2 linked regions of the Homo sapiens genome follow. The protein of the gene in region 1 interacts with the protein of each later gene in a pairwise test. Each region holds a gene or a part of one and is shown in the gene's direction. Other genes may lie near its edges.

Evidence for each region.
Region 2: the proteins of ACBD5 (region 1) and ALDH3A2 come close enough for resonance energy transfer, tested with the Homo sapiens proteins (one large-scale study listed by BioGRID).

Annotation. Positions count from the first base shown.
Region 1 is NC_000010.11:27,220,298-27,223,797, reverse strand, and holds part of ACBD5 (acyl-CoA-binding domain-containing protein 5), read left to right. Parts: intron 1-345; coding exon 346-460; intron 461-558; coding exon of another isoform or gene 559-591; intron 592-3,500. UniProt on the Homo sapiens protein: Acyl-CoA binding protein which acts as the peroxisome receptor for pexophagy but is dispensable for aggrephagy and nonselective autophagy. Binds medium- and long-chain acyl-CoA esters.
Region 2 is NC_000017.11:19,655,251-19,658,750, forward strand, and holds part of ALDH3A2 (aldehyde dehydrogenase family 3 member A2), read left to right. Parts: intron 1-28; exon of another isoform or gene 29-137; intron 138-1,115; coding exon 1,116-1,324; intron 1,325-2,494; coding exon 2,495-2,612; intron 2,613-3,500.

The DNA of each region.
Region 1 (3,500 bases):
GCTGGGACCACAGACACACACCACCGTGCCTGGTTAATGTTTTTTAAAAAATTTTTAAGAGACAGGGTCTCACTGTGTTGCCAAGGCTGGTCTCAAACTTCTGGGCTCAAGCCATCCTCCTGCCTTGGCCTCCCAAAGTGCTGGGATTACAGGCATGAGCCACCACTTAGCCCGGCCACAGTGTGTATACATTAAGTATGTAATTAATGTAGATCCTTCAGAGAGTCTATTATGAATGTCAAATATTAAAATTATTGACAAATTGGAAATAGGAGATTATTTGATATTAGTGGAGATCAAATTAAGAGTTTGTGATTTCACAATATTTGTTTCTTTTGATTACAGATTATTGAAACTATGCCAATGACTGAGAAAGTTGAAGAATTGCTGCGTGTCATAGGTCCATTTTATGAAATTGTCGAGGACAAAAAGAGTGGCAGGAGTTCTGATATAACCTCAGGTTGGACTATTTTACCTATTTTTAAATTCATCAACTGATATATTATGCACATATTAATATTTGTATCTCTGATTTTTTTTCTTACTTTCACGCGCCAGTCCGACTGGAGAAAATCTCTAAATGTTTAGAAGGTAGGAATCATGAAATCATGTAAAAGTTTTGTTTAAAATTTACATGTCAAAAGAATTCTGCACAAACTTACAGAACTTACAATCTTGTCACCCAGGAGTTTTCATTCCAGGCAAACACATTATATGAAGTTCCAAAACATTATAAACCCTTAAAATTTTAACCCTTAAGTGGTAAGCTATTAAAATACACCAGGTAGTTTACTTAGTATATTCGAAATTATAGCAGAATTCATGGTTTTATTTTGATAGGTCATGTTTTCTATTTTGCTTTGAGAATTACGTTAATAGTACTTTGAATTCAATGATTTACTAGCTAATTTTAAAATGGATATGTTGGCCAGGTGTGGTGGCTCATGCCTGTAATCCCAGCACTTTGGGAAGCGAAAGCGGGCAGATCACCTTGAGGTCAGGAGTTCAAGACCAGACTTGCCAACTTGGTGAAACCCCGTCTCTACAAAAAACACAAAAATTAGCCAGGCATGGTGGCACACGCCTGTGATCCCAGCTACTTGGGAGGCTGAGGCACAAGAATCACTTGAACCCAGGAGGCAAAGTTTGCAGTGAGACGAGATCACTCTGCTGCACTCCGGCCTGAGCAACAGAGTGAGATGCTGTCTCAAAAAAAGAAAAAAACAAACAAAAAAAGAAATTAAAAATAGATGTGTTTAGGGTGTGGTTTAACTATAGCATATAAGCTAATGCAAGACAGTTAATTCATTTAGCTTGTTTTCTTTTTTCTTTATTTTGGTTCAAGCATCTCTGCATGGATTACAACTTCTATTTTTTTTTTTTTTTTAGAATTTTGTCTTCATGTACACAAAGGATTGAAAGGGTTGTGTTTTGCATACTTGTAGGAGTTGAATAAAATGGGAGATTTGTTGGTATTAACTAAACATTTGATCTTGAATTTTTTTTAGAAAGCAGAGTGAAATGAGACCACAAGAGTCAATTTAAGAGAAAATTATATACCCTTTAAATAAAAATCGCCTGGCATCCCCTTTTTTTCCCTTGACATCCCTATTTATAAGACATCTTTTAATAATTGACAATAATGGCAGCATTTCAGAATAGTAATCTTCCTGTGCTGAAATCGGTCCTTGTCACGGTCATAAACCACGTGCAAGTAGTACTGACTGCTTACTGGGCATAACTCTACCACATCATTCTACATCTGATTTGCTTACAGAAGTCAAATATTAACAAGTAGTCCTTCTTATAAGGCATGCTTATTCAATTCAGAGAAAAAACTAAATGTTTTCTTCTTTTCTTTTTTTTTTTTTTTTTTTTTTGAGATGGAGTCTTCCTCTGTCACACTGACTGGAGTGCAGTGGTCCCATCTTGACTCACTGCAACCTCCAACTCCTGGGTTCAAGCAATTCTCCTGACTTAGCCTCCCAGGTAGCTGGGATTACAAGTGTACACTTGTATTCTTGTATGGCTAATTTTTGTATTTTTAGTAGAGCCAGGGTTTTGCCATGTGGGCCAGGCTGATCTCGAACTCCTGACCTCAGGTAATCCTCCCAACTCAGCTTCCCAAAGCACTGGAATTAAAGGCATGAGCAATTGTACCCTGCCAGAAAAAAAAAATTAAATGTTTTATGTATGTCAGGCATGTTGGGATGCAGAGGGAAATAAATCTGGATCTGCTGCTGTGGTGTCCAGCCACTGGCCAGAGGCAGATATTTAAACAGCTAATTATAAAACAAAGAAGAGTAAATAATAGTAATAAAGGTGCAGGCTCACAGCTACCTAGCTATAACTTACAATTTTAAAAATCTTTGAAGACCAGAAGTTTTTTGGTAAACTCATTTGGCAGCAAAACCTGTCTGATATGAACTAAAAATCTGGGGAGTAAAACCTGACCTGAAGTAAAACGAGGGTATTTTGAGTCTCTTTCCTCTTTAATGTAACTATTTATATGTTTTGCTGCAAAAATCACATTCTCTTTTTAGTGAGAGCTGCCTTAGACTCTATTGGATGTGTTACATAATATACCAAATGGCATATGTACCATATAACCTTTGCAAAATTAGAAAACTTGAGATTTCAAAATGTATCTGGATCCAAGGGTTGTAAGTAAGGGATTGTGGACCTGCACCATAATTTTTTTAACCTGAGCCATTCTGGTGGACATTTAGGTTATTTACTCCTTTGATCTTCAGAAAATACTGCTGAGAATAACCACGTACATTTGTCATTTCACATATGTGAAAGCATATCTGTAAGAAATATTAGAAATGGAGTTAGAAATGTTTGATGTTTGTAATTTTGTAAGATATTACCAAATTGCAAAACAGTTTGCAGTCTTGCCTTTTTTTTTCTAAACAAAGCATTTCCTTAAAAGTAGCCATTTAGGTCCAATAGAACAGATGTATCAGTTTTACATTGCCATTTTCAGAATATACATATACAGTAAGTTTTGAAATCAGGAATGATGAGTCCTCCAATTTTGTTATTTTTCAAGATTGTTTTGGCTAATCTTGATCCCTCACATTTTCATATGAATTTTAGAATCTGCATGTCAATTTTTGCAGAAATGCCAGCTTGGATTTTGATACAGATTGCAGTGAATTTGCAGATCATTTTGGGGAGTATTGTTACCTCAAAAATATTGTCTTTCAATCCATGTTCTCAAAACAGTGTCCAGTAACCAACAGCATTGGTAACAAATGTGATCTTTATAGAAATTTGGAATCTTAGATCACCCTAGACATACTAATTCAGAATCTGCATCTTAAATAGCTCTCAGAAGATTTGTATGCACATTAAAGTTGAGAAGCTCTGATGTATTTACCCTCGGGATATAGCTTTGGCCACTTGGACAATTTGCTTTTGTAAGTGATTGATCACATTAATGGATACTTTAAGAAAAAAACTTAAATATCATAAAGACAGATAATGTGAGTTGT
Region 2 (3,500 bases), on another chromosome or scaffold:
CTTGGAATGATATTTTTCTCTTTGTTAGAGCCATTTTGTTCTAATAGCTGTGATGATCCAATCAAGAAAGATGAAATGGAAGACAGTGAGATGTCAAGGATTGAATAGGACGTAGAACCAGAAGATAGAGGTTGAAGGTACCGCTTTGCCCCTGACCAGGGGTAAATTCTTCAATAACTGACTCTGTCCGGATAAGGAGGATAATAATGCTCTACCAGCTTCAGTTACCGTGTTAGGGGATCAATAATATATGCTATGTAGATTAAGCCATAGAAAAGTTAAAGCTTGAAACATTTGTTGGGCAGCTGAACCATGAAGTGAATGAAATTAATTCGCCTTCAAGTGGAAACATGAGATCCACAAGCCAGCTTTTACTTCACACTTCCACCTTGGAGTCTTGAATACCTCTCTGTCTTCCTTGCTTGCCATCTGTTCTCTTACTTTTGATGCTGTTATTGTCCAAGATGTTCTCTCTTAGAATAGCTGGTAATGATAGCACAATGCATAGATGGGCTCAGTCCACAGAAGCTACGTGAATTCTCCCAGTAACAGATGAGGAAATTGAGGCTCAGAGATGTTCAGTAGCTTGCCTAAGGTTGCATAAGCTAGTGAGTGGCAGAGCCCAGATTCAAACCAGATACACTTCAAAAGCAAGCGCTCTCAGCTACTGTGCCGGATATACCATTCATTCAGAATAGCGTGGGCTAAGCCCACTCTGTGTTGTGAGACAGAGAACATTCAGACTAAGACATGCATGACCTGTCCTGTGGGAGCCACTCTTCACCAGAGGCACTTCTGCACACACCCGCGTCTCATGCATTTTCCCTGGTCAAATTCAACCATTTGTTCTCCTTAGTGTCTTTGTTGCTGAGCTCATGTAAAAAAACACTGGAGTCTCCAGATTAGTTCTATGTGGGTTCATGCTTCCCAGATGCCATCGGACTGTGTGTTCTCCTCTTGTCCTTGGTCAGTTCCCTCTCCCATCCCTCACAGGGACTGGTCTTGACACTCTCTGGGTTTTACTGAATGTTACATGTTTATGTTGAAGAGATTGCTGATGTTAGACGTTAGGATTTATTTGGCAGTGCAAGAGTTTGTGTTTCTCTTTCTTTGAGGATCTCTATATTGTTATTAATGGTGGTGTTGAGGAAACCACGGAGCTCCTGAAGCAGCGATTTGACCACATTTTCTATACGGGAAACACTGCGGTTGGCAAAATTGTCATGGAAGCTGCTGCCAAGCATCTGACCCCTGTGACTCTTGAACTGGGAGGGAAAAGTCCATGTTATATTGATAAAGATTGTGACCTGGACATTGTTTGCAGGTGAGTCTGGCTCTCTGATTTTCTGAGGTTTTCCCAGCACAATGGAGACTTTTCCTGACAATGTTACTCTTTGTACTTGAACCCCATACCTTATGGCTCCAAGATACATTATTAAGCTTTGGTGGTTGATGTCCTCAAGAGTAACAGGAGTCTTTCACTGTCTCTTGGCGCCACTGTCAAAAATGGTGAGCTGTAAGTCCTGACATCATGTGGTTGTCCTTAGGAATTTTAAAAAAGTTATATCTGTTCTCAAGATTACAGCTAGATCTAGCAAGAAATTTTAACGTTCTTCTGGCCAGTGATCTGTGAAGTACATAATCCAAAGTATTGTGTGTGCCTAATAAAATCTTTAAATGCCCATTTGAGAGGGTATTATGCTGATATCTTAACTGAGATCCTTTGTGGGCAAAACAAGTGTTCCTCATTTTTTAACTGTGAATAACATCTTGCATCTGAAAATTAGAAAATAAGAGGTTTCAGGTTCTCTCTGCTAAATCCGGTTTAGCTACTAAGAAGTGCCAAATCATAGAACTGACTCTGTGCTCTGGGTGGTGTGGCTTTCTCTGCCCTTCAGAGATTCCAGGTCAGGGTTCCAGGTTGGCTTCCTAAGTAGAAATCCATTTGTCAAAACCAGACACCCTCAGTTAGTGAATGTTTAGGGCATGGGTTTCTGCCCATGCATAGGAAAGGTCTTCCCAAGTGGGGCAGGGCTCCACAAAGAGGAGGATGGCCTTGGAGGCTGGCTGACATCCTGCTTTATACCTGAACATCTTGCAGGCAGAGCCAAAAGCCACAACCAGGAGAGTCTGTACCGAACTCTGGTCATCCAGGACTTTCCTTTGGCTGGACTGGAAGAGGGGAAAGGACATTGGGAGGCTGTTTCTCCTCTTTTCCTGCAGCAGGCAATGGCTTCACTGTTTACCAAGTACTGTTTGCCGTGAGCTGGCCTGAGAACTTCCCTGCTATGTAAAATATTCCACCTCATTTGGAAAATACTTTCTAAGTTCCAAACAACTGATTTAGAAATGAGTTTTTAACTTTTTTATAAAAATTGCCAGATAAATATATGAATCTATTTTAGTTGCAAGACATTCAAACAACACAATGTAACAAATGAATATTTGACTGAATTACTGAATTATATAGCTGTTCTGGATGTTTTCCCCTCAGACGCATAACCTGGGGAAAATACATGAATTGTGGCCAAACCTGCATTGCACCCGACTATATTCTCTGTGAAGCATCCCTCCAAAATCAAATTGTATGGAAGATTAAGGAAACAGTGAAGGTTTGTATTAAAAACATCTGATTCCACTGATTTTAATAAGATAAGGAGTCAAATTAACTATTCGCAGGCAGCATCCCCATTTGTTTCTCCCTTCAGGAAAATTTCAAAATCATATGTGACTCAGTGAACTTATTGACTAATATGAAAATGCTATGTGTACCATAGAATATATGCTGGGAGCAAGGTTGCATTGGTGTTAAATCTACTTAAACTGTCTAGTTGATTTGTTGATGATTAGTTGTGGCATATACTTTTTTTAAAAAAGTTAAATAATCGTGTGTCCGTGGTTTTGAGGGAATGTTGCCAACCCTTTAGGTATAATCAGAGAGACTCTTTGGCATATTGGCCATTGCTGCTGAAGGTTATCAGTTTTTGTGTATGTAGAGGGCCTAGGGTGGCCAGTAGTTTGGAGGAGTGACTTAATTAAATAACTACTTACAGTATACCCTTTATATAATTAACAATCTTTCAGCGTGTTTAAAGTAAATATTTGCAGTGAGGGAACCAAGGAAGACTGCATGTAGAGTCCTAAGCCAAGACTTGAAGAAATATAGGATTTAAGTTGGTAGAAAGGAATGGGGGCTGGGCACGGTGGCTTATGCCTGTAATCCCAGCACTTTGGGGGGCCTAGGGGGGCAGATCACTTGAGGTCAGAAGTTCAAGACCAGCCTGGCCAATATGGTGAAACCCTGTCTCTACTAAAAATACAAAAAAATCAGCCGGGGATGGTGGTGCATGTCTGTAATTCCAGCTACTCAGGAGGCTAAGGCACGAGATTTGCTTGAACCCTGGCAAGAATCGCTTGAACCCGGGAGGCAAAGGTTGCAGTGAGCCAAGATCACGCCACTGCACTCCAGCCTGGGCGACAGAGCAAGACTCTGTCTTTAA